4 separate regions of the Homo sapiens genome follow, and regions 1, 2 and 4 are each linked to region 3. The links come from fine-mapping of genetic effects on plasma protein levels. A gene starts in region 3. Each other region holds a variant in brackets. All regions are shown on one strand. Distances are between the middles of the regions.

Region 1 (8,094 bases), 39 kb after region 3:
CAGCCTTGCACTTGCTCAGTCCGGTACAGTTGCTGTAAAGCCATCCAAAGCAAACATGGCCCTCCCTGCAGCAGACTCAACAGAACAAAAACCAACACCCAGAAATAAATTAGATCGCCGAGCTCATCATGTTACACAGCCCACTGTTCTCAAATCCAGAATCGTGAATATAATAACAAATGATACTATTAACTGGCAAATCGGTCTAAAGCCAAAACCAAATAACTCATTACTATTAACCAACATGATTCTCAGAATTTTCTAGGTCAGCTACAAGAAAGAGTTATGAGACTCTTCCCAACTGAACTAAATCTCACCCATGTCTAATTACACGCAGTGTGTATGGCTAAATCCTTTTTCTCTTCTGCACAGCTAGCTTGTGTCTCAGAGCCCCTAAACCCCCAGGGACTTCTCAAAGGAGGCAGGCATGTAGCCAGGTTGAAAGGAACATAGAGCCGGGAGCCAGCACATAGGAGCTTAAGGGCCACCTGCTAGCTCGGTAATCTCAAGCAAGTCCCTGAATTTCAGTTTATTTATCCATAAAACAAGACTAATGACAACCACTTCCCTGGAAATACAGCTAAAAACGTTCAGCAATTTGTACAACGCTATGTGGACATTAATCCTTACTACTCAGAAATAAGCAGCTGAGAGATGTTTGTAACCATTCCCATTTCCCCCGCCACACACACACACACACACACACACAAAGCTTCGTCCTTTACAATTTATTTCTTCCTTAGAGTTTGGATCACTTCTACCTGTCACACACCATCTTCCTTACGATCCCAGCATCACTGGGATGTAGCAGGGAACTGACGCCATCCTGTCTGCCTTCCAATGTGGAACAATGGCACACAGTAGAGCATCCAAGGTACATCAACAGTGACAAAGATGACTTGAAAATTCACAGGGACATTTGAGTGGGAGTAATAAGTTTGGTTTATTAAGCTTGTGGCTTTTCTTAATCTGGCTCCTCCTTATCTCACCTTCTGCTCTGACAGGAAGTCACTGCTCTGCGTTGGTTTTGTTCATTCTGTTTAACATGTAGAAAGCTTTACTGTTGCCACACACCTGTACAAGGAAAGCAGGTTTTTTATAAAATTCTGTGTTCTGGGAGGGTACTCATTCACATACAACTTAACATACAGGGAGGTCAGGCAGGTGATTTGGTCTAGGTCATAAGCTGTGTTGCCTTGGGCAAATTACTTAGCCTCTTGGAACTTATTTCTTCCATTGTAACATAAGTTGTCCTGCTTTCCTCAAAGACATAGACATGAAACCATAAATGATCATATAAAAAGAATTTTGGAAATAAGGTATTTTACTTATATATTATTAAGTTATAATGAATAATACATAATTATAGTATTATTTTTTATTATTCCTACTCTTTGTGCTAGAAAACAATTTGAAAGGAGTCTCTTGCAATCTGCCGAGCATAATAGCTCTGGATTTTAATTCTCCTTTCTAAAATGAATGGAAGATAAAATGCATACCTCTTAAAAGAAAGATCTGTTGATTTAATGCAAATTTTGATCAGTGTTACTAGGAAGTGATTGGCATTCTGATGCGTGATCTGTTTGTATTCATTTTATATTTGCACTGCTGATCAGTGTCTGGCACAAACAGAATCTTGTAGAATCTTGAGTCTAATACCTTTTGTATTGAAGGCCTGGCAATGCATTGTCATCTGTTCCTGGGAAGAATTACAAAATGCAGTCCTTTATTTTTAAAAGACATTATTATTAAGTCCCTGGAAAAACACATGGCCATTTTCAATTAAAAATGAGTAAAAGAGAGACTCTGAATCAAAAATAGTTGCCAATGTTCACCTTTAACAACATTATGAAATCTCACAAAAATGTAACTAAAATTTAACCAAATTTGGGCAAACTTAGAGAAACGACATGAGTAGGGATGTTTGCTGCAAAACATATGGTTTTCTCTGGTTGGTGCTCAGGCTTTAGCTAAGCCACATTGTGAAGTAACCATAATCTGTGCAAGGTCCATGTCTCTCTTCATCATAAATCTATGTCCAAATGAAAAAGAGAGAAGAATGAAATATGATAGGCACCATTTTGTGCCAGGAAAAATAGTAAGTATTGCTTGAGAGCAATGGACATCTTTGAACTCTGTCTGCAACTTCATTACATTCTTATGGCATGGATATTTTTCATTTATAAATATTATATACACATATAGTATAAATTTTCTTTATAGCATAAGTACTCTGATACAGGTATTAGAGATGGTATCTCCAGATATGAGTTCTTTATGGCATACATACCTCTCCCAAAAAAGTGCTAAAAGCAATTAGCCGGATGTGGTGGTGGGCGCCTGTAGTCCCAGCTACTCGGGAGGCTGAGGCAGGAGAATGGCGTGAACCCAGGAGGCAGAGCTTGCAGTGAGCCGAGATCGCGCCACTGCACTCCAGCCTGGGCGACAGAGAGAGACTCCGTCTCAAAACAAAACAAAACAAAAAAGTGCTAAAAGCACAGACCTGAAAGTCCCCAAACTGATACATAACGTTTACACCTAGGTGTGAAAAAAAATCTTACCCCTAGAGCACCTGTGGTGAGAAAGTCAAAACTTACAAGAACAAAACTCAGTCTTCAGAATCTTCTTCCTTCATCACAGGATCAACACATTTCATCTGGGCTTCTTAAATCTAAATCTTTAAAATGACTAAGTTTTCTTCCTTTTCTCTGTTTTTCCTAATAGTTGGGGCTTATATGACTCATGTGTGTAAGTATCTCCTATATCTACATGTAAACATTAAATGAATTTCTACTGACTATATTGTTATATTATAGATGAAAATTATTTTCACAATCATTCCTATCTTTCTGAACTGTAATGTATTATACAAATTTTTCATCAGTAAAATTATTGTAGCTTTTAGGTAGGGTTATTGTTGTTTTTTAAGCTTTGAAAATAATATAGTGACTGTCATTGGAAGAATTACATGAAACAGTAGTTTAGATCTTTTGTGTGAAACCTTTTGGTCTACTTTTGTAGGTTTCAATATGGAAATTATTGGAGGGAAAGAAGTGTCACCTCATTCCAGGCCATTTATGGCCTCCATCCAGTATGGCGGACATCACGTTTGTGGAGGTGTTCTGATTGATCCACAGTGGGTGCTGACAGCAGCCCACTGCCAATATCGGTGAGTCCTCCACACTTTTCCAGACATGTGTTTTTTCTGAAAGTTATTATAGGTACAAGAGAAGCTTACCTCTCCTGAATGAGAATTTGATCTACTGTTAGCTTCTGTGGTTACTGACCAACTGGTGGCGTTTATTTACCTTCTTCCACATCCACGCTTTCTGTCTTGGGTTTTCCTTTTCAGAGAGAACTGAGCTGCTTTTCCCAGGCAAGACATTAGACAAATTCAAGTCCTCTGTATAATGCAGGGAACACAGCAACAGTAATACTTGAAGCAGCAGTACTCTTGACCTTGTTAGATCACACTGCTCAAAAGGAAATCAGACAACCTGAGCTTGCTCTGTGCTCTGAGCTTCCCCATTTTACAAAGGGGTAATAATCATATCATACCTGCTTTGTGGGTTTTGAGAATTAAATAGTATCTGTTTAAGTATTTTAGCATGCTTGGCACATTTAGTAAGCACAAAAAAATTGCAGCTATTATCATTAGTATTATACGCATGAGAAGCCTACTTTGCCACTCCTAACAGTAGCTACCTAACAGTAGCTACTCACCACTTACAACTTTCCTAGGTGGAAAAAAACAAGTTATTGATGACTTCTAGAAAGAGAAAGATAATGAGAGAGTTATTTTCTAGGATACTTAGAATGAAAGCTTTTCTGAAGACAGAGTAAAACCTTCCAAAGTCCATTTCAGCCTAGGATTCTCTTACTTCAGCTAATAAAGCACAAAACCCCTCTTGGGATGCTGCAACCATCACAAAAGGAAATGCCAGTAGAAAACTAATTTGGTATTTGTTGTTTTGTTTGTTTGCTTGGGTTTTTGGTTTTGTTTTTTGTTTGTATATATGTTTCCTTATGTTTCTTACCTAATAAGCTGAAATGGAGCCTTCTCCTTTTCTTTCACTTAAAGATCTCTCTTAGCTGTAATGGTTTGCTCTCCAGGCATTGTCTATATCTAAACAGAACAATTGAATTGATTTGCTTTTCTATGCTTTGGGGGTTTTGTCTGATTACCCCATTTAAATGGAACTGTTTGATCACAAATTGGAAGTTTTGAAGCCTGCAAACTGGGAGATCTTCTGCTATCTCTAAATAGCAAGCCACTGATTTCCAATTTAATATGGTTACTTCATTTACACAGGGTTCTTGCCCTCATAGAAATCACACTCTCATCCCCATCACTTCTCTCTTCTCCAGGGCATTTGCCCCCTCGAGATCAGAGAGACAGAGTGGGGAACTGTCAGCGAATGTTCATTTGATGCAAAATATGCACATCTTCAAATATGCTCATAATACACATTCAAATGGTCTATAACCTCCCCAGACACAGAGCTTGACTTCTAAATGTTCAACAAACTTTGGATGGAAAGAAAGAAATACACTGAAAGATCTTTCTTTCTTTCTTTCTTTCTTTGGCTAGGCCTGAAACATGGTGTATGAAAAAGTGCTTCACTAGCCATAAAGTGTTATAGGAAATTAAATAATATCACTAAGTTGAATTTTAAATTTTGTCAAGTGGATTTAACTCACGAGAAGCGGATTCCCAAATTGGGGAAAGAGATTATTGACAAAAGACTGGAGAGAGGTCTTGGAGTTTTTTGTGTTTTGTTTTTTTTTTCTTAAAACAAACTATTGCTAAATATCATTTTAAATGGCTGGGGTATAAAGAACTGCAAAATATGTAGATCAAATTTCCTCTACAGGACACTTGGGTGTAAAAAGTAGGCAGATCGGTGGTTGGAAAAATATTAAGCTTTATGAAATTCAAAATATTTACAAAATAGCTCAATGGTGGCTTCCCACAAATGTACTCCCCAGTATCCTGTGGGAATAGTTTG[C/G]CCCAAGCCTCTCTCTCAGCAAAATTTTGAAGAGGGCCAAACCTGGGAGTGCTCCCTTCTCACCAGCCATCCACACATCTCCTCCCTCAATATTCTGGCCCCTTTATTAGTTGCCATGTCAAATATAAAAGGAAATTGATAAAAAATGTCCTGTACAAACTTATTTTCAGCATTTTAACTTACCAGAAGCAAAACTCTCACCAGCTGTTGTACCCTGTTCTCCTGATTCTCTCCCAGGCCCCTCTCACAGAGCACTTCCTCCTGCCCCAACCTGCCTAGCAAGTTGTTAGATGGAACCTTCCACAGCCCCTTCCACATGGCCTCACTCCATCTCAAATGCTCAAGGCTCCTGGAACAAAATGGTTCAATGTTCAGGCTCTAGATTCAAGCCAACTGAGCTTTAATCCTGCCCGAATTTGCCTCCTGGAGGCAAAGGTCCTCAAGTTTATTCGTTTACCTGAACCTCAATTTCTTCATCTATAAAATGGGGATTGTCATAATACCTATCTCACCACGCTGTTGTGCGGTTTAAATGAGGGAAGCTTTGTAAAATGCTTAGCACAGAACACAAAGAACTTAATAGATGTTATCGAGTATTGTTATACAATTATCTGTGCCTTCCATGGTAATAACCAAGGAACTAATCTGATGTTGACGAGATAAGACTGGGAAGACCTCCCTCTCTGACAGCCAAGTTCTTCTCCCTCTCTCTTAGGCAAGAGAAATCTCCAAGACATAGGGACCCTGCCTTTGCTGCCAGACCTCAAGGGGCGGGTCTAAGCAGAACCACTGTTGAGTGTCCAGGCGCGCTGGCAGAGAAAAGAAGAGGCTTGAAGGGGGTTGGCACGGGGTTCAAAGAGGGATTGAGGAAAGAGCACTGGACTGGGAGTCACCAAAAGCCAAATTTGGGTCCTGATTCCCCTATTTATGAGGTGTGTCACCTTGGACCAGTCAGAGAACAATCTTTTACTGGTAAGGAATACACAGCCCGTCAGCTTTACCAGCCTTGAAAAAGGTTATTGTTAGGCTCAATGGAGACAATGTTTACAGATGTCTTCAGCAGACCCACTATAAGCCGCACTGTAGTTCTGCTCCATATATGAATCTCTTCCAGGAAAGCTCAGGGTGGGACTCCGGAAACCACATTTTAAACCAACACCTCCAGGTGATTCTGAAGCAAGTCTGAAGACTGCATTTGGGGAAATCCTGTGCTGTGCAACTGAAAAACACTGGCATTATTACTTCCTCTTTGTGTGAATTCAGACTTCAGTTTAGCTAAGGAGGTGGCATCCCAGAACTCAAGTAATTCCAGGTACCCTGTGGGCAGAAAATTTGACCTGAGTAGCACAGATTACAGTTGAAGGATATCTAGAAATTGAAAGGTCAGAAGGAATAATGGTCTGCTTGGGTTGTTTTTGGTCTTAACATGTCCCAGTGGAGACAAAAATAACCAAAACATTTCAAAGGCAATAACTAGCCGAGTAAATTAGTAAAAGACGAAAGAAACCCAGACATTTTTTCAGCATCCCTCCCTTAGTGAGAATCCACCCTCCATACCTCTCATTTGTACCTCATAGCCTTCTTTGTGTGAGTCATTTAGGCACGTGCCCACCTTTCTGTTAGAGCATTCATCCTGAAGATTTTTATGTCATCCTTCTCCTACAAAGTTTTGGGTTTAGTGGGTATGTTGAATTTGAATTCAAATCAATCCTAGGAAATCCAGTCCACATCCTATGAGAAATTTCCACCCGGTCCTGATTTTGCAATAGGCAAACTTTTCAACAAATAGAGCTGGAATTCCCAAAATAAATAAAAATAAACTCTTTTGGTAGAAACCAAAAAGTGGTCATTCCAGGCAGTCACAGCTCTGCCATAAGCAAACCCACTCTACCACAGGCATTTGCCATTTTCAAATCTGAAACAATCATGTCTTCCTTTTTCTGTATGTTTCTGTGCTCTTTGTAACTTTTATTAATCTTTATTAATCTATATGCATGAGTATGTGTGTTTTTACTGCAATCTACTTTGGTAGCTTTTCCAAGTAGCAAAGAAATAGTTACATGTAAACAAACAAATACAATTAAAAGATCTGAGGTGGACTTCATAAAGATAGACACTGTAATGGAATGTATCTGTAGTATACAAATGGCTCTACGGTTCTGCCAAAATCTCCAAAAAATTATTTCTACTTTATCACTGCTGTAAATGTAATTTTATCCAACAAAGAGTAAATCAGATCAATTGTGGCACTGTTGAAACACTGGTACTAGAACTGTGTATGACCAGAGATTTAAAAAGCAAACCTTGCCAGGCACAGAGACTCACGCCTGTAATCCCAGCACTTTGGGAGGCTGAGGCCAGTAGATCACCTGAGGTCAGGAGATTGAGACCACCCTGGCCAACATGATGAAATTCCGTCTTTACTAAAAATACAAAAATTAGCCAGGTGTGGCGGCACAAGCCTGTAGTCCCAGCCTCTCGGGAGGCTGAGGCAGGAGAATCGCTTGATCCTGGGAGGCGGAGGTTGCTGTGAGCCGAGATGGCGCCACTGAACTCCAGCCTGGGAAACAGAGCAAGACTCCTTCTCAAAAAAAAAAACGTTAAAAAAGAAAGCCAAAAAACAAACCTATTTCTTCACCTCACTCACCAGTTCGTATCCTCTAAATCTCCCCGATGGAATGGCTACTAACCTTAAAGTATCTTCATTTTAAATTAGCACTGTTTTCTTACCTTGAGGAAAGTTTTCCTTTCTTGTCCAAATCTTTGTTCTAATTGAGGGGACAGGACATATGGACATATCTGACTGTCATGTAATAGGCCTTACTTCCCCACATTGACCTGAGATGAAGTCTAGGCATGTGGGTGAGCAAGTGTAGGGTGGGGATCTTTGTGGTTTTTGTTTGTTTGTTTGTTTGTTTGTTTGTTTGTTTTTAAGAGATGGGGCCTTGTTCTGTCACCCAGGCTGTGACACTTCAGCCTCCAGCTCCAGGACTCAAGCAATCCCTCCTGCTTCAGCCTCTCAAACAGCTGGGACTGTAGGCATGCACCACCATGCCCAGCATGCACCAGTGTGCCCCTTAATGTT
Region 2 (8,107 bases), 220 kb after region 3:
ACAAGCACAGGAAAAGATGTTCAACATCACTAATCACCAGGGAAATGCAAATCAAAACCACAGTGAGATATTATCAAAAAGAGAAAAGATAACAAATGTTGGTGAGGATGTGGAGAAAAGGGAACCCTTGTACACTGCTGGTGGCAATGTAAATTGGTACAGGAATTATGGAAAACAGTGTGGAGAGGTCCTCAAAAAATTAAAAATAGGCCAGGTGCGGCAGCTCACGCCTGTAATCCCAGCACTTTGGGAGGCCGAGGCAGGCGGATCAGGAGGTCAGGAGATCGAGACCATCCTGGCTAACACAGTGAAACCCCGTCTCTACTAAAAATACAAAAAATTAGCCGGGCATGGTGGTGGGCGCCTGTAGTCCCAGCTACTTGGGAGGCTGAGGCAGGAGAATGGCGTGAACCCGGGAGACGGAGGTTGCAGTGAGCCGAGATTGCGCCACTGCGCTCCAGCCCTGGTGACAGAGCGAGACTCCGTCTCAAAAAAAAAAAAAAATTAAAAATAGAACTACATGTGATTCAGAAACCCCTTTTCTGGATATATAATCTAAAGGAAAAGAAATCAGTAGCTGGGGCCAGGTGTGGAGGCTCACACTTGTAATCGCAGCACTTTGAGAGGCCGAGGGCGGGTGGGGGCAGGTGGATCACAAGGTCAGGAGTTCAAGACCAGCCTGGCCAACACAGTGAAACCCCAACTATACTAAAAATACAAAAATTAGCTGGGCATGGTGGCAGGCGCCTGTAATCCCAGCTACTCGGGAAGCTGAGGCCGGAGAATTGCTGGAACCTGGGAGGCGGAGGTTGAAGTGAGCCAAGACTGCGCCACTGCACTCCAGCCTGGATGAGAGAGCTAGACTTTGTCAAGAAAGAAAGAAAGAAAGAAAGAAAGAAAGAAAGAAAGAAAGAAAGAAAGAAAGAAAGAAAGAAAGAAAGAAAGAAAGAAAGAAAGAAAGAAGGAAGGAAGGAAGGAAGGAAGGAAGGAAGGAAGGAAGGAAGGAAGGAAGGAAAGAAAGAAAGAAAGAAAGAAAGAGGAAAGAAAGAAAGAAAGAAAGAAAGAAAGAAAGAAAAGAAAGAAAGGAAAGAAAGAAAGAAAGAAAGAAAGAAAGAAAGAAAGAAAGAAAGAAAGAGGAAGGAAGGGGGAAAGAAAGAAAGAAGAAAAGAAGAAATCAGTAGCTTGAGAGGATATCGGCACTCCCATGTTCATTGCAATATTATTCACAATACCCAAGGCATGGAAACTACATAAGTGTTCATGGACAGATGAATGGATAAAGAAATTGTGGTGCACATATACAGTGGAATATTATTCAGCTGTAAAAAAGAACATCCTGCCATTTGTGACAACATGGATAAATCTGGAGGACATTATGCTAAGAAATAAGCCAAACACAGAAAGACAAATACTGCATGATCTCACTTATATGTGGAATCTTTAAAAGTTGAACAAATTAGGGAAGAGGAAACAAAATTGTCTTTGTTTGCAGGTGATAAGATTATCTGTGTAGAAAATCTGAAAGAATTGACAAAAAAAACCCTCTTGCAACCAATAAACAATTATAGCAAGGCTGCAGGATACAAGGTTAATATTCAAAAGTTAATTGCTTTCTAATATACTAGCAATGAACAAGATGCAATAAACAAGTGGAATTTGAAATTAATAACACAATATCGTTACTTTAGCACCCAAAATACATACAAGATCTTCAAGAGGAAGACTACAATACTTGGATGAAAGAAATCAATAAAGAACTAAATAAACAGAGAGATATCCTATGTTTAAGGTTAGGAAGACTCAATATTGCCAAGATGTCAGTTCTTCCCAAGTACTGAGAAGATTCAACTATTAATCTATAGATTCAATGCAATTTCAATCAAAATGTCAACAGCTATTTTGTAGATATCAACATACTAATTATAAAGTTTATAAGGATACAAAAGATGCACAACAGGCAACACAATATTGAAGAAGATAAAGCTGGAGGACCAACACTACCCATATTCAAGACTTACTATAATATTACAGTAATCAACACAACGTGGGCTGGGTGCAGTGGCTCATGCCGGTAATCCTAACACTCTGGGAGGCCAAGGCTGGAGGATTGCCTGAGCCCAGGAGTTCAAGACCAGCCTGGGCAACATGGTGAAACCCCATCTCTACCAAAAATGCAAAAGTTAACCGGGCGTGCTGGCAAGCATGCCTGTAATCCCAGCTACTGGAGAGGCTGAGGTGGGAGAATTGCTTGAACCCAGGAGGTGGAGGTTGCAGTGAGCCAAGATCACGCCCCTGCACTCCAGCCTGGGTGATAGAGTGAGGCTTCATCTCAAAAAAAAAAAAAAAAAAAAAAAAGACATTGGAGGTATTGATTAAAAAAATAGATGAATAGATCAATGGAACAGAATAGAGAACCTAAAAATAGATCCACAGAAATATAGTCAACTGATCTTTGACAAAGGAGCAAAGGCAACACAATGGAGAAAAGACAGTCTTTTCAACCAATGGTGCTGGCACAACTAGACATCTATGCAAAAAAAGTAATCTAGTCACAAACTGTACATACTTTACAAAATCAATTCAAAATGGATCATACTTCTAAAGTAAAATGCAAAACTATAAAACTCCTGGAAGATAGCATGGGAGAAAATCTAAATGATATTGAGTTTGGCAATGATGTCTTAGATACAATACCAAAGGGATGGTCCATGAAAGAAAGAATTGGTAGGTTAAACTTCATTAAAATTAAAATTTCTGCCAGGTGCAGTGGCTCACGCCTGTAATCCCAACATTTTGGGAGGCTGAGGCAGATGGATCACTGAAGTCAGGAGTTTGAGACCAGCCTGGCCAAAATGGTGAAGCCCTGTCTCTACTAAAAATACAAAAATTAGGTAAGCAACTGTAATCCCAGCTATTTGGGAGGCTGAGGCAGGAGAATCACTTGAACCTGGGAGGCAGAGGTTGCAGTGAGCCGAGACCGTGCCGTTGCATTCCAGCCTGGGCAACAGAGTGAGACTCTGTCTCAAAAAAAAAAATTAAAATTAAAATTAAAATTAAAATTAAAATTTCTGCTCTGTTAAAGACACTGTCTACAGAATAAAAATACAAGTCACAGATTTGGAGAAAATGTTTACAAAGGACATATCGGATAAAGAATTGTTATCCAAAATATAGGTAGAACTCTTAAAACTGAACAATAAGAAACCCTAATTTAAAAATTAGCAGAAGACTTTAACAGACATCTCAGCAAAAAAAAAAACACAGATGGCAAATATGCATATAAAAAGATGCTCCACCTCATATGTCATCAGGGAAACACAAATTGAAACAATAATGTGATACAACTACACACCTAGTAGATTGGCTAAAATCCAGAACACTGACAATACCAAATGCTGGAGAGGATGTGGAGCAACAGGAACAACAGGAACACTCATCCATTGCTCGTATGAATGCAAAATTGTAGAGTCATTGTGGAAGACAGCTTGGCACTTTCTTACGAAACTGAATATACTCTTATCATACAATCCAGCAATCACATTTCTTGGTTTTATTCAAAAGAATTGAACACTTATGTCCACACAAAAACATGCACACAGATGTTTATATCAGCTTTATTCGAAATCAAAATTGCCACACTTGGAAGCAACCAAGATATCCTTCATTTGGTGAATCGATAAACTGTGGTATATCTTAATGGGATAATGGGATATTATTCAGCACTAAGGAAATGAGCTATCAAGTCATGAAAAGACATGGAGGAAACATAAATGCATATTACTAAATATGCCAGCTGTGGTGGCTCACGCCTATAATCCCAGCACTTTGGGAGGCCGAGGCAGACAGATCATGAGGTCAAGAGATTGAGACCATCCTGGCCAACATGGTGAAACTCCGTCTCTCCTAAAAATACAAATTAGCCGGGGATGGTGGCAGGCGCCTGTAATCCCAGGTACTTGGGAGGCTGAGACAGAAGAATCACTTGAACCTGGGAGGCGGAGGTTCCAGTGAGTCGAGATCGCGCCATTGCCCTCCAGCCTGGGGAACAAGAGCAAGACTTCGTCTCAAAAGTGAAGAAGAAGAAAGAAGAAAAGAAGAAAGAAGAAAGAAGAAGGAGAAGGAGAAGGAGAAGGAGAAGAAGAAGAAGAAGAAGAAGAAGAAGAAGAAGAAGAAGAAGAAGAAGAAGAAGAAGAAGAGGAAGAGGAAGAGGAAGAGGAAGAGGAAGAAGAAGA[A/G]GAAGAAGGTCTGAAAAGGCTATATACACTGCATGATTTCAACTACCTGACATTCTGGAAAGGGCACAATTATGGAGATAGTAGAAAGATCAGTGATTACTAGCAGTTAGGCGAGAAAGAAGGCTGGATAAGTGGAGCACAGAAGATTTTTGGGACAGTGAAAATATTCTGTATGATACTATAATGGTGGGTACATGTCCTAATACGTTTGTCCAAACCAATCAAATGTTCACCACCAAGAGTAAACTCTAATGTAAACTAAGGACTTCAGGTAATAATGATGTGTCAATAGGTTCATCAACTGTAATAAATGTACCACTCTGGTGAGGAATGTTGTTAATGGGGGAGGCTATACATGTGTGGGGTCAGGGAATATATGAGAAAACTTTATACCTTCCACTCAATTTTACTGTGAACCTAAAATGACTCAAACGTAAAGTCTACTTTTCAAATCACAAAATATCTCCAAGCAAAAAGGAATTTGGAAAAAAGCTATAGAAACAATATAGTTAATAACATTATATGGGGGTTCTTTCCGCTCAGAGACCCCTCTCTCTATAGAGAGAGCTGTTTCTCATTCTCTTCTCTTCTGTCTATGAAACCTCTACTCCTAAACTCCCTGTGTGTGTCCGTGTCCTAAATTTTCCTGGCGCGAGATGACAAACCCCAAGGTATACATCCCAGACAACGTAGCCCCTTCATCTTGGGCCCTTGTCCGGGATACCAACGTACAACATTCATCCAAATGGTGAGTAGAGCAGCGGACTCCAACTCTGTCATTTCACTTTAAGGTTCTCGGCCTCCATTTCAGAACCAAATCAAACCAAATACTGGGCCCCCTTCAGCCATTTAAAAACGATTAGCATGGCTGCCAGCCTTGAAAGACTTGGGGGACAGGCTTGCTGGGGAGAACATGCAGAATCCCCAGCACCCACGGCTTGCAGGGCATGTTGGCCATGTTTGAAATAGCTTCCTTTCACGGAGGACTTAGCCCTCGTGTGGGTCTGGAAGTAGTCCTGAGGCAACTGAGGGTTTCTGGCGGGGGCTACCCCGTGGCGTTATCCAAAGGCTTCTGGACTGACCTCAGCCTCTGACCGCCCAATGGCGTTTCGGCAACAGGATCTCCAACTTTTCTGTATAATTTCCTCCTTTACTGTCCGTGATCTTCGAATAAAATCCAGTGCATCCACTGCCAGCCGGGTCCTTTCCGCTGCGAGACCCCTCTATACAGAGAGAGCTGTTTCTCTTTCTCTTCTAAAGATCTCCCGTCTCTTTTTACTAGGAAAAAGAAGAGGGGCTGTATGCTCCTTAGTTGTTGGAGTCCTTTTGCCCTATACCCTTCCCCACCTGACAAAATGACTGTTCCTTTGCATGGAGAGTTTTAGTTGCTTCTCTTATACACACGCAGCTCTTCCAAGGTTCAGGGCTCACTTCCCTGATGGTCACTCACCACCTGGAATGCTCCTCCATAGCCCCCACCCTGAATGATGCTTACTTGCAAAGTTTTCATCATGTTTTCAAGTTTTGGATCATCTCCCAGAATTTTGACATTAAAATGACTACAAGTCACTAAACCTCAGTTCCAAGTCAGAGTTTTCCCAGGAAAGGGAATTACTAATTGGTTTATCTTGCATCAAGAATCTCCTGGATCCAAAAATCAATGTAATATAATGATAGCATAAAGGAGAAAAGCAACACGATTATCTCAATAGATGCAAAAAAGTTGGCAAAATCCAACACGCTTTCATGTTTAAAAACACTTAATAAACCAGGAAAAAAAGGAAACTTTCTTAACCTGATAAAGGGTATCCATGAAAAACCCAGAGCAAACATCATACTTGATGGTGAAAGGCTGAATGTTTCCCCCCAAGATGAGAAAAAAGACAAGGATGCCTGCTCACCCCATTGCTACTCAACATTGCACTGTAGGTATGCACATGGGCAATAAGGCAAAGAGAAGAAAGAAAAAGAAGGAAGAGGAGGTGGGCAAGAGGAGGAGAAGGAAAACAAGGAAAAGAAAAAGAAGAAGGAGGAAGAGGAAGAAGAAGAAGAAAGGAGAAAGAGAAGAAGGAGCAGCAGCAGCTATTTAGATTGGAAAGGAAGAAGTAAAATTATTTTGTATACAAAAAATCCTAAGGAATTCATTTAAAAGACTACAAGAATTAATGTACTAATTTAACAAGGTTGAAGGATACAAAATCAATATACAAAAATCAGTTGTATTTCTATGCATTAACAATGAACAATCTGAAAATGAAACTAAGAAAACCATTCCACTTACAATAGCATCAAGAAAAATAAAATGCCTAGATATAAATTTAACAAAAGAGGTGTAAGACTTCTACACTGAAAACTACAAAACATTATTGAAAGAAATTAAAGAAAATCTAAATAAAGAGAAAGATATACCAAATTCATGTATTAGAGGACTTAGTATTGTTAAGAAGGCAATATTGCCTACATTGATCTACAGAGTCAATGCAACTCCTACCAAAACCACAGGTGACTTTTTTTTGCAGAAAAGGATATGTTAATCCTAAAATGTATGTGGCACTATGAGGGACCCAAAATTGCTGAATCAATCTTGAAAAAAAGAACAAAGTTGGAGAATTCACACTTCCTAATTTCAAATTTTACTATAAATCTGCAATAATCAAGACAACATAGTACTACTTTAGGGATGGATACACAGATCAATTGAGTAGAATTGAGAGCTCAAAAATAAACTCTTACATTTATGTTCAATTGATTTTCAAAATGGGTGTCAAGACAATATGCGGAAAGAATAGTCTCCAACAAACCATCCAATGCAAAAAGATAAAGTCAGACATCCCATACTATAAACAAAAATTAATTCAAAGTGTATCATAGGCCGGGTGCAGTAGCTCATGCCTGTAATCCCAGCACTTTGGGAGGCCAAGGCGGGTGGATCACTTGAGGTCAAGAGTTTGAGACCAGCCTTGCCAACATGGTGAAACCCCGTCTCTACTAAAAATACAAAAATTAGCTGGGCATGGTGGCAGGCGCCTATAATCCCAGCTACTTGGGAGGCTGAGGCAGGAGAATCACTTGAACCTGGGAGAAAGAGGTTGCAGTGAGCCGAGATTATGCCACTGCACTCCAGCCTGGGCGACAGAGTGAGACTCTGTCTCAAAAAAAAAAAAAGTATCATAGACCTAAATTAACTAATAAAACTATAACATTCTTAAATGAAAGCATAAGAATAAATATTTATGACTTTGAGTGAGGCAATAATTTCTTAGTTATGAGATGAAAGGCACAATTAGCAAAATAAATAAATTGGACTACATCAATATGAAAACATTTTGCTGTAAATGATACCTTCAAGAAAGTGAAGAACAAACCACAGAAAGGCAGAAAGAACACTTAATTCAACAATGAAAAAAAGACAAAAGAAAAAAGAAAAAAACTAAAAACAAGAGAAAAAGGAAAAAAGAAATAAAAGAAATTTAAAAAAATTTTAAAGAACAAAAAAAATTCAACAATGAAAAGACAAACTAATTTCTATATGGGCAAAGGATTTGAAAAGACATTTCTCCAAGTAAGATATACAAATGACCAATAAGCACATGAAAAAATATTCAAAATCATTAGCCATTAGGGAAATGGAAATGAAAACCACAATAAGATACCACTTCACACTCACTAGCATGGCTGCAATAAAAAAGACAGACAATAACAAGTGTTGTTAAGGATCTGGAGAAATTGAAGCCCTCATACACTGCTGGTGAGAATGTAAAATGGTGCAGCTGCTTTAAAAAATAGTTTGGCAGTTCCTTAAAATGTTAAACATAGAATTACTATATGATCCAGATATTCCACTCCAAGGTATATAGGAGAGGTATTTTGTTTCC
Region 3 (8,093 bases):
AATTGAACAGACATATATGCATCAGCTCCTCAAAGAGTTTTTAAAATGTGATGCTATCTTTGAATCTACTGTATTCACAGATAATTTACTATTTTAAGTGTATAGGAAAGGGCTTCAAACTAACCAGGGAGAGAGCTATCATCCTAGCTCACCATGAAGCAATCAATCTTCCATCTGCTCCAACCCTTATCAAGTTCCTTATTTGTCGAAACGGCATGTCATACAACTTGCCTGACTCCCTCAGTAGTTAAGAGGGCTCCCTAGTAAAATCCTCTGCAAGGCTAACATGCAAGATGCTAAATGAGCAAGAAAGCTCAGGGCTTATACACCCTGAGGGTTTGTACACCTACCAAGAACTAGAAGCTTTTAGACCTCCAGTGCTTACACTTATGCCAAAACATCCTACATTGAAATAAAGAGGACAAAGTCGTTTATTTAAAATGCATAAAATTATTTAAAATGCTGTTTTTAGGATAAACAGCATCTCAGTAGACTAACCAACCTTTAAAAGCCAGCAGAATAGATATAGAATATTCTCTTGTTGTGAAAATACCTTGTAAATGTACAATCACAGGTGGGTAAAGAACAAATTGTGAGCCATCTGAGTCTCTAGCAGTCTAATACTCCACTAACTGACCAAGTAGATCATCAATGAGCTATCTTTTTTTAAAGAGATCTATGAGTGCTCTTTTCAATATGGTTCAGATCACAGAGGAACCTGGTTTTGAACACTGTTCTCTTTGCTGGGAAGAAGAGATCTTAAAAAGGGATCCTGCAAAGGCCTGTTCCAGAAAAGCACACAGGATTAGGATTTGACTGTGCCTGCAGCGATATTGAAAACTAAAACTTTAGCCAAATTCCCAGAGATACTTCTAGTGTATCCCCTGATGTACTGAACAGTGCTGGGCAGATAGTAAGTGTTCATTAAATATGTGTTGGCTGCTGATTGTTAATCTGGGCAAGATGTTCACAGACATCTGAATATTTAGAAGACATTTGGATACGCAGCTGAAGTTTACAGTTTTCACGTGGATGTTCTTTTAAAAAGCTGAAGAAGGGAGATGATTGCCAAATGTATTATCTCTATCTCGAGTTGCTAAGGCTCACAAAGTCTCCTATTTCCAGCAGAGAGAAAAATGCTTAAAACTAGATTCATCAGCAACCTGAAGAAAGCCAAAAGAAGCAATCTTAAAGATCTTTTTAGTATCTTGATCATTCAGTAGAATACTACAGTGCTAAAGACTCCAGATGCCACACAGCTTGTTTCTTTGCCCATATGTAATGTACATTTACAATCACATGTACAAAGGCATATTATGCCAAGAGAAAAAGCAATCCACTGCATATACATGCTATATCATAAGTATGATTGTGTTAACCACTTCCTCCCTAATTTCCTTATGTGAAGTACTGTTTTCTTGGTCAATAAGCCCCATAATTTACAAAATATACAGATCCTATTCAGTTGAAAGAAACATGCATATGTGTTCACCAAACAAAATATTTTCTCAATATTCTATTTCTTATTGTATATAAACAAAAATAAACTAAGCAAAAAATAAAACTCTCCTAATACTTTAAGAATTTGTTTTTTTAATTTTGTATGTCTTGCAAATTAAAAGATGATTAATTTATACATTATATGTCTAAGAAGTAGGAGAATTAATGAGATTAGCACAATACTGGATAAATATTATTCATAAAAAATGTATTAAATACATAAAACATAATAATTATTTAGAAATTTCTCAGTCCTTTTTATAATTTTGAAAGCTTCCTGGTATTACACAACTGATGGATGGGGTTATAGCATGTGTTGCTTCTTAATAATAGCTCTTCATAATAAGATCATGAGATATCTATACGTAGAGTATTTTTAAATCATCATTCTTTTTATTCTAAACATTTTTAAAATGTTAAATATTTTAAACTAGTTACTATGTTTAAAATAAATTCTACAAATGCTTAACTACATTATTTAGCTAAAATTTCAACCGACGAAGTTTTTCTTTAAGTGTACAAGTGGTCAACCTCATTCTTTACAGACTTCCAGTTTTTATTTTTCTCTATTGTTATTTTTCCTTGTCTTAACACCATCTGCTATTTTTCCAGATGACCAAAACCTTTATAAAGTCAGATGAGGTTTGTTTTATGCTTCAGGGGACCCTCTTTGAAGAGTGAGTTATTTTGTTAGATGACTTAAGCTCACTCTATTCCATAAAGTGCATTTGTGTTTATCAGAAATATTTGATCTTGAGAGTGGCCCTCCATCCTGTGGACCCTTTCAAGATCAAAGAATCACTAAATCTGGGGGCTAGAAACCATTCCAAGAGGTTATCTAGTGCAGACCTTTGTAATCGCTGCCTCGCAGAGGAGAGAGCACCTAAGCCATCCTTAACAGATTACCTGTCAAGTTTCTAAAGTTTTCCAGAAAAGGAGCCAACACAATCTTCCATTGCAGCTTTCTTTTTGCGATCTCCTAAGGCAACGAGTAAAATGCCACACTTCTTTCTGTGCCTTCCTGCACACTGGTTTCAGTTGCTACTTGGAGCTATCCTTCAGTCTCTACCCATGACAATACCTGTGTGGTGCCTTGTCAAGAATCCACCTGCCTTTTCCCTCTTACTCTTGAGGAGCAAAGCCACCTCACCTCCCAAGCTGGCTAAAAGCTCTCAGCATGCCCCGGGAGGGGAGAGGTAAGGGGTCACTCTTTACCTTTGCAGATACCAAACTCTTCACCAAAAGGATCCTCCCCATTAGAAGGCTGACACCTCAGCCCCGGGCCACACTTCATGCCATCCATGCCTGAGACTGTGCGGTAGCAAGTTTCTCCCCGCCCTGCAGCGCACACTCGGCAGCAGCCACAGTCGTCGAGCACTGTCCTCTTGCAGCGCGGGCTGCTTTTGCACTCACTGCTGTCACAGTGTTGAGGGCAGTCCACCGCATAATTATTGCTCCAGGCGGCCACCAGGTGTGCAGGCACGAGGAGCGTGGTCAGCAGCAAGACGCTCTTCATGTTTCCCAGCTGCCTCCGGCTCGGCTCTCCAGTCGTGGTCTTTGCTGGTGGGAAGCAGCCGTCCAAACTGGTAGCTGAGCCTCTGCCTACACGTTTATGAGTTTTATACACTGGGTTGCCCGCATGCTTTCCCGTCATCAATTTCCTCAACCCAGCAGCAGCGCTGTCCTCCTGCCAGGCTCTCTTGTTTTGGTTTATGAAATCCAGGATGAAGGCTGGATTAACACGCTGCTGCCATCCAGGAATTGAAAAGCCCAAGCTGATGTCATCTGTTATGTTTAGATGGTTGTTTTGCATGAGGACTGAAAAACTCACTCACATCCGTCTCAAGGGCTCAAGGACGTCTGTGAAGGAGGGATAAAGAAGGTTGCACACCCTCCTTCAGGACGGGAATTGTTCTGACCCTGGCATATCACTTGAGGTGTAGCTTTGTCTCAGAGCCTCTGTAGTCAGGAGGAAAATGATATCAACATGAATCATCAGGACCGAAGAAGCTTCTTCAAAAAAAATAATAAACATTTGGTATTTCCCCTCAACAAATAGCTATGAGATCATTTGAAAGAAGAAAGGGTTATATTGTGTCTTTTCAATACTTAGAAGAAAGAAAATATTTTGATAGGGCTATTTTTTAAGACCCTCTCTTCCTTCCTCTCACCCCTCTCCTCAAATGTTATTTCTAAAGCAATTCATGTTACATATATCTAAGCCTATTGTGGATATAGCTGTGCTTCCAGTACAATGTGGAACTGCCTCTGAGAATTTCTTTTAAAATCAATACAAAAAGCCACAAGAGAGGTAAGATCCTTTCGGCACTGCTTCTGGGTTACTCAATTCTGGAAAAACTTATCAGTTGGACTTCTGATCCAAAACTTCCTCAGGGGAAGGCTCATCCATCACTAAGTCTGCTTGTCCAATGACGGAGTCCACCCAGAGCCCTTCCCCTCACCTCCTGGCATCTATCAGAGCCCTCACTAAAAACTGCCAAGCGCGGCAGCCAGCCCAAGGCAACAAGTGGCTCAGCAGGAAAATCAGAACACAGCCCCCAAGAAACAAGTCACAGGGAAGGGAAACATTACCCCTCAGGAAACAAGGTCTGCATGCTAAGAGGGTTACCGTGCCTAGGTCCCTCTGGGAAAACAGAGTAGCCCTCTTAAAATATCAACTGTGCCAGGGTCTTATTAAGTAAGGTTAAAGAGGAGAGAGGGGAGTTCTTACACCAACCACATGCCGAATTCCATGCCCCCACCTCACTTGTCAAAAGAGATATAGACTCACTGTCACTTAGTAAATAACAACCCAGTAAAGTGGGTAATTCTTGGTCTGTCACAAATGAGCTGTAAGAAATTCACAGGACTTCTCTTGGCCTCAGCTTCCTCTTTTGAGAATTGATGGTGTTAGGCTACCTGACCTCTAAAATTCTTGTTTCCCATAGAAGATGAGGCAGAGCGGGCATTGGATGTAACTTGAAGATCGGCTTTTGCAAATGCAATTTTAGGGGGACACAGGGAGTAAATTCAGAATACAGAGAATTGAGGCAGTAGGAAATGAAAGCAAGAGTTTTAGCTTTCAAATTTTCCAAATTTTTCATGACAATCCAATTTGAAATACTCTATCTCCCCAGAAGCACTTACTTAGCAGGTGGCACACTCTGATGTTTTCAGTAATGGGTAATATTTGTTGAGTTAATAGCTTAAACACTTTACATGCATTAACTCATTTGCACCTCATCACAATATTATGAAGTGGCTGCTATTATCATGCTTATTTTTTAAAAGAAGAAACTGAGTAAGAAAGAGGTTAATTTGCCTAAGGTCCCTATATTGAAGGGATGGATGTTAGTCTAATGTCAGAGCCACATATTCTATTGCCTATTACAATACATAATTGTGCTTTCATGGCCAATAGTTCCAATGGCCTAGGTCGCAATTTAGGCTGACCCTAGAAAATGTCCCTTGTTACTGAACACCACTTTCTGAGGAGTAGTTAACTGGAATAGTGGTTAATAATAATATCTAACCTTTACAGAGATCTGACTGTGTGCCAGATGCCATGCTAAGCAGTTTATGTAGATTACCACATTTAACTTTCAAAACAACCTCAAGAGCTAGGTGCTATTCTTATCCCCATCTTAGATATGAGAAAACTGAGGCCTAGAGAGGGTAAGTAACTTGTCCATCATCACACAGTTAGCAAATGGTGAAGCCAGGACTCCAGCCCTGAGACCAACAAGCTCTGGAGACTGGATTAAGGATTGTAAAATCAAATACATACAGGTGCCAAACAGGTGCCCAAGGTGGGTGACATGGTAAGCTATACTAGATGTAATACAGAAGGAATGGAGTGGATTTCGTCCTCCTGAATAGCACATAAAGACATGAAACTCTTCCACTATGGAAGATAAAGGGAAACCAAATTGATAATACCTTCAGTAAATGACAACTAAACAAATGTAAGTTGAGAGTACCAAATCCAAATAGTAAACCAAACTACAATGCACAGGTAAGTGCAGAAAATATGCCCAATAGAGTTCACCAGTGGTGGAACTATCTCAATACACAGTGCCTAACAACTCATTTTAGGGGAACCTTCAATCCCTCCAAGACCCAACAAAAACCATTTGTCCCAACACAATCCCTGTAAGATTTTTATCTAGTGATTTCTGTCTTCCCCAGAGCCTTGAGCCCAGATCAATGAATTCCATTAGGAAAGTTAGCAATGACCACAAAGGGTTAGGAAATGGGAGCACGAGCAACCAAGGAGCCAACTCTAAGCTGCATTAAAAAGCAATAAGATGATGGCAGAGCTGTTGATAGTGAGTGCATGAGGTCCACCCATTTCACTTGCTTTGTGCTGGGGACTGGAACATCTCTCATCTTGCTCTGCCTGTATATCAGTTGTCAAGTCAGAGTGAGAAAGGGCAAGAGGAATTGCACAAGATTTTCACAACTCCTAAAATGTAAGTTCAAACTAAGGTGGGTCAAACCATACCATCTGTGGATCCAAATGTTGCAGCATATGGTGTTTTGCAATGGGGGCAGAGAAATGATAAAACCAAATATCTATTTAACCCAGTATACCCTGTATACTTAAAATGCCACTTTGATTTTTTTCTTAAAGCTGGTATTGTGTTAGGAAAATAAGCTTTGGTAATGTGCATTAATATTTTGTGTTTATTTTGTACATTATGATTGCTTCTAACCAAATAACAAGGATTTTTTTCTGGATAGGTAAAAGTAGTCCAGTGGAAAGGCTCTGGGCAGATCCCAGACTCTCAGAAGGTGGTTTATGGTAAAGCGAATTATACCGTACTTACTGTGCCTTCCTAACAAACCAGCTCTACCAGAGAAGTCTGGTTTAAATTGAATTACAAAGGCAGACTTGAGGGCATAAAGTTTGGAGGAGCAAGTGGAGACATTTACATGCAGATTTTAGGTGATTTGGTTTTTAGGTTAGTTTTGGTTGTGGTTTTTGATACCATCTGAAAGTCTTCCTGCTTTGACACTAGCTGATAGCAATTTTGCATGTGCCTACTGCAAGGTCTAGCCCACAGCAGGAGCTTAATACTTAATAAACACATAAAAGGAACCAACTGTTTCCCAGAATCATCTTCAGATGATAGTAAGTTAAACGGGCATCAATGTGTTCCCTTTCTTTCTCTTTCCACCAGGAGAAGCAAAGTGAGGCCCAGATTCTAGGGCAGGCTAGGTTAAGCTGCAGAATGTGTTTACTTGTGGGAATGAGGTAGAGGTGTCAAGAAACAGCACATCCAATCCAAGAGACATCGAGGATTGGATGGAGCCTGAGCAAAGACTGTAGTCCCATTGCGGCAGTTCCTTCACAGCTAACCAAATTTGTCCTGTTGACCTTGGGCTTGGCAATATCACATCCACCCTGGAAAGTTCATGGGAGCCCCTCATAGCCAATAGAACTTGGTGAAATACTTCTGCCAAACTGGCTGGGATTCACGGCAGTCACAGGTCAGCTGTCAAAGCCCAGGGCCTGAGGAATCTTCCCAGAGCCTCCTGCCCTGAGTACAGTTTGCCTAGAAACAGCTTTACCACTGCCAAGATATGTGATCTTAGGCAAGTCACATGCCACATACCTTAGACCTCTCCTTTCTCCTCAGTACCTCAATAATAAGAGGGCCAAACAGGGCAACAGATATGAAACCATCGTGACTATTATTATCAAGCGTCTGATTTCTGAAGATTGGCTTCATTCTTTAAATGTGATCTTATGTCTTGGAGCAAATATTTTCCCAAAAGAAATCTCTCTAATTCTTTAAGTTTCTATTTTTAATAAAGACAATTTTAATAGCAAAGTGGAATTGAATGTACCAATATATGATTTACAGGCAATTTTCAAAAACTACACCTGCTTAGAAGAGCAAAGTGAAATGCATCTGCTTTAATTAGGCTTCTTGCCCATATGGGGGCTCTCTGATTTGTCTTGATGAGCAGGTCAACCTCGTAGGCAGCTGGGGTGCCATCACACAGAGCTCTGCAGGAGCCCTGAGTGTGAGGGTGTGTGAGTGACTGCAAGAAGATAAGGACAGGACACCCGCAGTGTCTGCTACAAACCCAGAATGTCTGGGCACCTCTCAGAGAACTTGGCACTATATCCAGATTTTTACTCCAATGGAGCCTCTGAGGAAGCAGCCACAGAGTCAGGTTGTTTTTTAACCCTGTTCAAATCTAGAAACTTCAACTTTGGGTTCACGCTGCTAGGAACTTTTTTAGAGCCAGGAAGTCTGGCTTGGAAACATGAAGAGCTCTTACTCACTGAGGTGCCTTCTTCTCCTCTTTGCCCCCAGTTCTGGCAGTTTCTAATGTGGGGCATCAAGGCAAGCTTTTCTTTCTAACAGCTAGCTCCTTCTCAAATCAGGTTCTGAATCTCGGACTCCATCAGCAAGAGATTCCTGTTTCACACAGCATCCCTCTAGCTGCAAATATGAACCCACATCCAGAAGCACCATGTGCCACCCTGACATGAGAAGCAATGTGAGTAGCAAAAGTAGCTCTGAACTCAGGACCAGAAGACGTAGGTTGGCATCCCAGTTTCATAATCAGCTATGGGT
Region 4 (8,107 bases), 84 kb before region 3:
TCTGCATAAGCTGCTTTTTCTCCACAACATTGATAACCATCTGGTATACATAGATCCTTATTTATAGTTTTCCTTCCCACTCTAATGTAAACTCTATGTGGCAGAGACTTGGTATGGTCACTGAGCAACCCCAATGCCTGCAGCAGTGCTTGGGCCATAATGGGTTTTCAATGACTATCTGTGGAATGAATGAATGAATGAATAAGTGGATACTAAGAGTATTCATGCAATGTCTGTTTTCATGAAATTTTGATAAGCCCTCATGATCAAATTGTGGAGATATTCTAAGAAAATAATTACATCTTGATTCTTTTGAGTAGGTGAATTGCCCCTTTTTTCCCCTCAGAAAAATCTGTTGGGCAGGTAAGCTACACTCAGTAGCTTAAGATGAGTCTCAATCCTGGGACTCAAGTGTTTTAACTCCAAATTCCATCCCATTTCCGTAGCCCAACATGTATCCTTTCCTTTAGCACAGAGAAAGAAGTCTTCTTTTGGAAAGCGTCATTTCCTTTCACTGTCTCCGCTTTCTCACCTCTTTTGGAGTTTAGTCTCTTTTTGACCAACCTCAACCCAGCCTCGTCATCCCTGCACCCGGCATCTTGTTACAGGCACTAGAGTTACTTATTCAGGGCAAACCTCCACTTGCCTCTAGATCCCATTCCCTTCTGCTTCTTCAAGGCGTCTCTCTCTCTCTTTTTCTTTCTCTCCTGCAATCTTCAATATCCCCCTCTCTATTTTTCCAGCTAAAAAGGATATTCTAATCCTAAAAATCCCTTTCCTGATATTATAGTCCCTTCACCATACCTAACTTCCCCCCAACTCTTCTGATCCAACTCTTTGAAGCACATGATGTCCCCTTCTCTTTGCACCCATTCAATCAGGGCAGTATAATTTCTGTTTCCTGCTGAGCTACTGAAGGTAGGATGAGATGAGAGCAGAAAGCGCCAATCACCACACCTGATGGTACTCTCTGTTCTCATCTCGCCCTACATTCAGTAGCATTCAAACTGACTGCTCTTTCCTTGAAATCCTTTCCTTTCTTGGCTTCCATAAAGCAACAGGCTCTGTGTTAACCTCCCACTTCAGTGACTGCACCTGCTTAGTCTCCTCTGCTAGCTCCATGTCCTCTAAGCCATCTCTGCACTCAGAGCTCAGCCCTACCTGCTCTCTTCTTCTCCATCTACAAATTTTTTCCCGCCCCATGGTTTGAAGTACTACATGGAAAGGACTCCCAAATTCATACTTCTGGTTCTGAGGGGCCCCCTGGGTTTCAGCCTTACTTGTGTATCCAAAGCCCTTGTTATGGACCAAATGTCTGGCCTTCTCCCCCACCTCCCTGCCCAAATTCAAATGCTGAAATCCTAACCCTCAATGTGATGGTATTAGGAGTGGGGGCCTTGAGAGGTAATTCGATCTTGAAAATGGAGCCCACATTAATGGGATTAGTTTCCTTATTGGGAGAGACCAGAGAGCTAGCTTCCTCTCTCTGTTCTCTACCATGTGAGGATACGATGAGAAGACAGCTGTCTACAAACCAAGGAGAATGCCCTCACCAGACACTGGATGTGCAGGCACCTTGATCTTGGACTTCCCAGCTTCTAGAACTATGAGAAATAAAATGTTTGTTATTTAAGCCACCCAGTCCATGGGGCCTTATGTTATGACAGCCTGAACTGAATAAGATAGGCCTGCTTGCCATTTTCCCCCAGTTGTCAAATAGTCATCTCAAAATTAATGTGACAAAAATGGAAGCCTTGACTTCTGCTCTGCAAGCCTGGTCCTCCTCTCATCCCCTTCATCTCTGTAATAGCACCACCATCTATCTCATGGTTCAAGTCCAAACCTTACGAATCAACACTCATTCATCTCTTTTCCTTATACCCAAAGTCCTGTTAGCCCTACATCTAAACATGACTCAAATCAATCTGCTTCTCTCCATCTCTGTTGCTGCTCTAATCCAAGTGACCATCGATGCTGTGTTATCTCCCCAGGGTCTGGACCAGCAGCTGACACAGCATGTACTCAATAAGTAGTTGATGAAGAAATGAAGAAATTAATATGAAATTTTTTTCTATTTGAAGTTGTCAGTTTACCATTTTCATAGGAGAGTAATGGAAAGCCAGCCAAACTATTTTACAGCAGAACTCAGAGACCTCAAGGAAAATTTAGAAGTCAGTAAAGTGTGTATCTTAATACCCCCAAATGCCAGTCCTGCTTTTGTTCCCATGGGGACCCTTCTATTCCTCTGCCATCTTCATAATTTCTCAGAGTAAAAACCTACCCTGAAGAAAGGGGCTGGAATTCCTCACACAGAAATATAAATCAATGATAGCCACTTCAACGAGTGTCCTCACAGAGCATTTGGGAGCAAGACTTTACAATGAAGGAAGAAAGTTAAAGCAAGTCAGTGGATTGACAGCAGCCAGTGGGGATTTCTTCTGTTTCTTCTGACAGGCAGCTCTGGAGACTCAAGGCCATACGAGGTACTTCCTTCAGCCAAGGTTAGATGCAGGATTAGTCCATTAGTCCAATCCATACAGATGTTCATCGTAGGCCACACAGTAACAGGAGCAGTTGCGAAAACTGCGGGAGCTGACATTCTGAATGACACAGGGTTTCTCTCATTCTTCTAGCCCTGTAACCCCATCATCCCTCCTTCCTATTTAGTAATGGGGTGACAGCTTCTATTTTTACAAAATAGAAAGAATAAGTTCTGACTCAAGAACCCATGGAATAAGGAGTGAATTTCCTTCCTGCTTCTCTTCCTTTCCTATCAGTGAGTCAGGACGAAAAGCCAAGTCTCTGAAACCAAAGCCCTTAGCCACCACATTATGCTACCTCCCATACCCTGAGTCAAGGTAAATACAAGGTACTGTAGGTACCTGCACTGTGCCCGGTACCTACAAGGCATCTGTCATGCTCAGCTGCTGGGTAAACGGCGTCTGATGCAGCAGTAGCCCAGAAACAGCTGTGGCGTGTCCACATCCTCTGTCCAGGGAGGTTGCAGCTCATGGCTCATCATTAAACCTTTCTCAGAAGCCAAGAGACCCTCCTGACTGTGACTCACTGTATCAGACAGTTGCTTCACAGAACACAGTCCAGCCTCCCTCCTCCTCAGAAAGCCTGTATTGCAAAATGAGGCTTTTGAACAAAACGTCTTCACCAGCTCCCCGTCCTGCGTTACCATCGAGCAGCTGCTGCTTGCACTGCTGCAAACTAGCCTAAGTCCATTTGGCCATTCAGCAAACATCAGGCTATTTTTCTGGTAAATATCAAAAGCTGATGATCCTCTGGAGGTTCTAAGTGGGTGGAGTTAGACGTTCCCTTCACCACACTCTCACCATCAGGTGCAGAACAACAAAAGGGGCAAATTCCACCTAAAGTCACAATTCAGTCCCACAGCCTGCATGTAGCAGAAGAGGTCCCACTCTCTGCCTTAGCTGCACAATCACCCCTTACATGAAAGGCACATTCCAGGGTGAGTGAATGCTCATCTTTGTAGTCAAATTGGTGACAAAAATCCTCCATGAAGCCCGTGAAAGAAGAAGCCAAGGAATTTTCAACCTGGAAAGCAGTCGTTAAAGTCCTGGGCTGACCAGATTCTTAACCTTCATTCACATATGCCACTGAATGTTCGTGAAAGGACAGTGAGTCCTGTACTAAGCTTCCATGAATTTCAGCACTTAAAATTATTTCTGACATCCCTTCTGCTAACTTACTAATGCTCTCAGGCTTTATTTCAGTAAGTGCCAAGAAATTCGCTTTTGAGGTTTAAGTTTCTGTTTAGGATTCTGCATAGCTAATTAATAACCTCATGATTTCAAAGACTATTAATCACCTCTAAAATGATGGATTTAACTTGTACACAAAAATTATATAGTTTATACAAATTACGTTATTTGTTATTGTTGCTTTATTATATATATTAAAGTGTATAACATGGTGTTTTGATATACTTATCTTGATACACGTATGCATAGTGAAGTGATTCCTACAATCAAATGAGGTAACATGCCCATCATCTTTGTTACCTTTCTTTTTCTTTTTTGTTTGTGATAAGTACCTAAAATCTGCTATCTATCTTAAACACATTATTTTAAAGTAAATTAACCTACAGGCCGTAGAACATTGAATGTCTGCTGTTAAAATAGGAATAAACACTAATGTTTCTCACTTCTGGGTAGCCCTCATCTTCCTTCCAAAATAAAGCAATTGGCATTCTCTCTTTCTCTCCCCCTCTCTCTGGCACGCGTACACATGCACACACACAGATTTTCAACACACTTCTCTGCTTGAATTGGAAGAGACTGGGAAAATTAGACAACAGCTGTGTACTTCCAAGAAGTCTCCTATTTCTCTGGCTCAGCACAACTTGTGATTTAGTTCATTTGCTCACTGTGCAGCATTTCTCAGAAACCACAAAGAACATGAATGCAGG[T/C]GGCATGACTGGAAGGCTCAGAAAGTGCTCTGTGGTCTCTGTATGAGTTTGAGGTTTCAGATTCTACAGATGGCACATGTGAAACTGACACTTCACTGCACTGCATCTCTGGCTCTGTAATTGAGGGGCAGCTGCTTCCTGGTAATGCAATAAAACCCAAGGGCCCAAAAGAAAGGCTTAGAATACTCCTCTCCCCTGCCCTCAACTCCCAAGTGCCTTTCCACCAAACTGCTGTGTGGGAAAGTCACCTCTCCAGCCTTGTCACTCCCGTACACCTTATACTCTTCTCAACTTTCATTACACCCTGCGGGGTGACCTGGTGATTTGAGTGCCTGTATCTTTATTAGTCATAAAATTATGTCTAATATTCTAGATGGCCCCATGGCACCTTGCATAGTTTAGGTTCTTCACAAATATTTGTTTCCATTTTACCTATAGCTCATTCATTCATTCATTTATTCAATGATTTTTGGACTCAGGGTAGAATATTCAAAGGTATATTCAAGGGGGGAGGATTTCAAGGTGGATTCATTTTTTAGCATTAAGTTCTGCTTAATGGTGGTTTTGTTTCAAGTATCCAGATGCAGCATTAGAGGTTAGAGACTAAAGACAAGGATAACTTTATGGGAAGTTGGTCAAGCTCAAAGCTATCATACCTCTTTCCAAACATGTCTCTTGGATAGATAAGAAAAATACTAATGGTAATGACAGCAACAAAAACAGGACGATTAGCATTTCAGGAGTGTTTACTTTTTTCAGGCACTGCTGTAAGTGCTTTACTCGCTCCACACAGTTGCTTTATGAGGGAAACACTATTAATGTCCTCCATTTTACAGATAACATGGTGCCTGGCATCCTGCTGCTAGAGATTAGTATTTAGCAAGTTTAGACAATACCCTCTGTCAGGCCATTCCCTCCTTTTAAATGTGCACATCCCTCAGCATGATGATCCCCTGCAGTAGTCCAGGTGACAAACACGCCTTAGTGTAAAGCAGTTTACAAAATGCCTCACTTCCTGGTAATCTGCACTCTTGGAGGATTTGGAGGAGGAGCTCTGAAAAGAGGGGATGGAATGGCTGCAGAGAGAGAAGGTGGGATGGACACCTATATCATATTGGATAGACTTGATCAAAGCCACCTAGGCTGGGAATCCTGTAGCTGGGGTTTAACTGGAAAATGAATAGAGACTTGGCCAAAGCAATTTTTGTTTCTTTCTAATGCTGTGTCCATTGACTCCAGGCCAAACAAGAATCTTTTGGGAAAGGGCGTTTGAGCCATAGAACAATGGACTGACTGATGTCAATCAAGGTCAGTTTTGCCTTCCAGGGACATTTGGCACTATCTGGAGATATTTTTCATAGTCATCACTGGGTGGTCAGGTGTTACTGGCATCTAGTGGTTAGGGGTCAGATAGGCTGCTAAACATCCTACAGTGCACAGGACAGCCCCCTTATCATGAAGATTATCTGGGCCAAAATATCAATAGTACTGAAGTTGAGAAACTCTGCAACACATTAAAAAGGTGCATCTGTACCATTGGAATTTGAGTCTGGGCTTCTGAGCAGTGATGACTGCAGAGGGGCACCCTCCAGTGGCCAGTATGAATCATGAGCCTAAATCCCAAAGAGTGACTCCAGTTCTCTATCCTTTCCCTGGTTATTTGCTCAGCCTTCCATGGAAGAGCTAGCAGGGATGTCCTGTCCTTTCTGTCCCCTCCTCCCAGGCACACACATTTATGAAAGTATGGCGCACGAGCCTTCACCCTTCATGATGAAACTCCTCCAATCTTCCAGTGGATTTTCACTTTATGCAATTAATCTTATGTGAACAAAAAATAAAAAATAAAAAAAAAGGAGAAGGTACACAGTTCCCTTCCCTGAAGAGGGAACATGAGAATCAGGGAACTCTTTATCTTTCACACCGACTAAACACACCTGAATTTGTGTTTTCTCTTTGTTGACTCTTTTGGCTTCTTTTCATCTGCATTCAATGTGGTCACCTGTAAGGCCATAGCCAGCAAAGTGGTATCTTCATTGCTCTCCCGGGAATGTTAATGAGCTTAGCAACAACAAAATCCTTCTGATTTACTAAACCAGTGCACCTCCTGACTTGTGCATAAACCTCCATGACATTGCATTGAAATTGATGCTCCATTATCAAAGCAATGATAATTTGAAAGGTTTCTTTCTCATTTCTGTAGTTTTTAAGCTCTTAGATAATTGCTTTGACTCTTCTGTGGGATCTGTATAAAATGCCAAAGTTAGTGAGAAGGTGTAAGCGTGAGAGTCACTCCAGGTCCCTCCCGTGACTGACATTGTCAGAAGCAATTTGCCCTCCCAGACTTCAGATGGTGTCTGCATGTACCAAGCCAGGTGTGTGCTGACTTTTAATCAGGCCACTCAGCCTAGTTGACTGAGGGAGATGCAGATCCTCCCAGCCTCTCAGGGAGGATTCTTTGACCAAGTGACTAATAAAACACCCATGCAACAGATGTTGGACTACCCACAGCCTGTGGCTCTCCTACCTCTCACATAGGCCACCTCACTCCTACTGAACTGGGGAATGTGAGGAGGTCTCATGAATGGTTTGCCAGCCTGTGGGAAGCTCTGAATCCATCCACTAGAACACTTCAAAGATTTTGTGTTCAAAGTCACCCTGGAAAAACAATCACCAAAGTGGTTCATTCATCCCACCAGTAACTTGATCACTGATGCTTCAGAGGAAACCAAAGAATTCAGCACTATTTACTACCTTGTGAAGTATAAATCACTGCGCCTTCTTAAAACTGTATGTGTAGGAAAACGAAGGCCAGAACATGCTTAGTTTCAAAGCATTTTTTTACCTAGTTTCTCAAGCCCCCTCCCTTGTTCAAACATCAACTCAGCAGGAATGACTGATTCTAAGAGTGCACCCACCCTTCCCATGAGAACGTTCTGAGAAATCATCCACCGGCCGTGCCATGTAGCATCACCGCATGCCTCTAAGTTTCCTTCTCATGGCAGCAGGAGGCAAGAAACATCTTGAACCTTCAGGGATTGAAGACTAATAAGGAGGAATTTGCATTGTCATCTTTAAAAATAATAAACCTAACTGATTGCTTTAATGTTTCAAAAAAAAATTTATCCTGCTTCTAAGAAACAAAACTTCTGAAAAGACTGCCATGAGATTGAAAATCTTGCAATGGAATGTGCCGCTTGAGGGCGCCATTAGGCTTTGAGAAAATAACTGTCTGCTACTTTAAGTGCTGTCTTTGGAGCCAGCCCTGTGTCCAGCAAGCTCTATGAAATAAAACTGAATTTAGATCTCACTTCTAGGAAAATGAAGGGAAACAGGAATCTAGTCTCTTTAAACTCAAGTGACATTAACCAAAATTCGGTTGACAAGTTCTAAATTCCCTTGTACAAAGCTGTCTTTACCAGCCAAATGAAATAAAAAGTGATACTGTGCTAAAAGATGCCCTGTGTATTTTTGTAGGATTGACAGTTGCTTAAGATCAACATTCCAATGTGAAATGAGAAAAATAGTGGGAATAAATTGCATAACAGAAATCTCCTGATTTAAAACTGGAAACCTAAGCTGTTTGGGTTCCATGGGGAAAACTGCTTTACTTGGGTGTTTGACACTCCCAGAGAAGGAAAAGCTGATATGTAACTCGGCTTTTTTATCAGG

Alleles and levels. Alleles are on the strand shown, and positions count from the first base shown. The strength of an association depends on the size of the effect and on how common the allele is.
For the plasma level of the protein whose gene starts at base 3,092 in region 3, allele C in region 1 goes with a higher level than allele G (moderate association).
For the plasma level of the protein whose gene starts at base 3,092 in region 3, allele G in region 2 goes with a lower level than allele A (weak association).
For the plasma level of the protein whose gene starts at base 3,092 in region 3, C is the high allele of the variant in region 4 and T is the other (moderate association).

The links. PIP is the chance, under the fine-mapping model, that this variant and not a neighbour inherited with it causes the effect. The UK Biobank Pharma Proteomics Project read protein levels with antibody pairs (Olink). The fine-mapping took linkage between variants from a reference panel, not from the people measured, so its PIPs are less certain.
Region 1: its variant is fine-mapped to the plasma level of the ESM1 protein (UK Biobank, PIP above 0.99).
Region 2: its variant is fine-mapped to the plasma level of the ESM1 protein (UK Biobank, PIP above 0.99).
Region 4: its variant is fine-mapped to the plasma level of the ESM1 protein (UK Biobank, PIP above 0.99).

Annotation. Positions count from the first base shown.
Region 1 is chr5:55,021,639-55,029,732 of GRCh38, forward strand. It overlaps GZMK (granzyme K), which reads left to right and starts at 2,618. Exons shown (of 5, transcript NM_002104.3): 1 at 2,618-2,748; 2 at 3,022-3,169. The coding sequence starts at 2,685. LOC102467081 (a long non-coding RNA gene) reads right to left here and starts at 2,531. Exons shown (of 3, transcript NR_104662.1): 1 at 2,291-2,531; 2 at 990-1,074. The variant C/G (reference allele first, on the strand shown) is at 5,010.
Region 2 is chr5:55,201,797-55,209,903 of GRCh38, forward strand. No RefSeq gene overlaps it. Among named protein-coding and RNA genes, the nearest start is that of MCIDAS, 21 kb to the right of the region's middle. The variant A/G (reference allele first, on the strand shown) is at 4,233.
Region 3 is chr5:54,982,502-54,990,594 of GRCh38, forward strand. ESM1 (endothelial cell specific molecule 1) reads right to left here and starts at 3,092. Exons shown (of 3, transcript NM_007036.5): 1 at 2,716-3,092. The coding sequence starts at 3,016.
Region 4 is chr5:54,898,509-54,906,615 of GRCh38, forward strand. No RefSeq gene overlaps it. Among named protein-coding and RNA genes, the nearest start is that of ESM1, 83 kb to the right of the region's middle. RefSeq lists a silencer at 1,164-1,321. The variant T/C (reference allele first, on the strand shown) is at 4,439.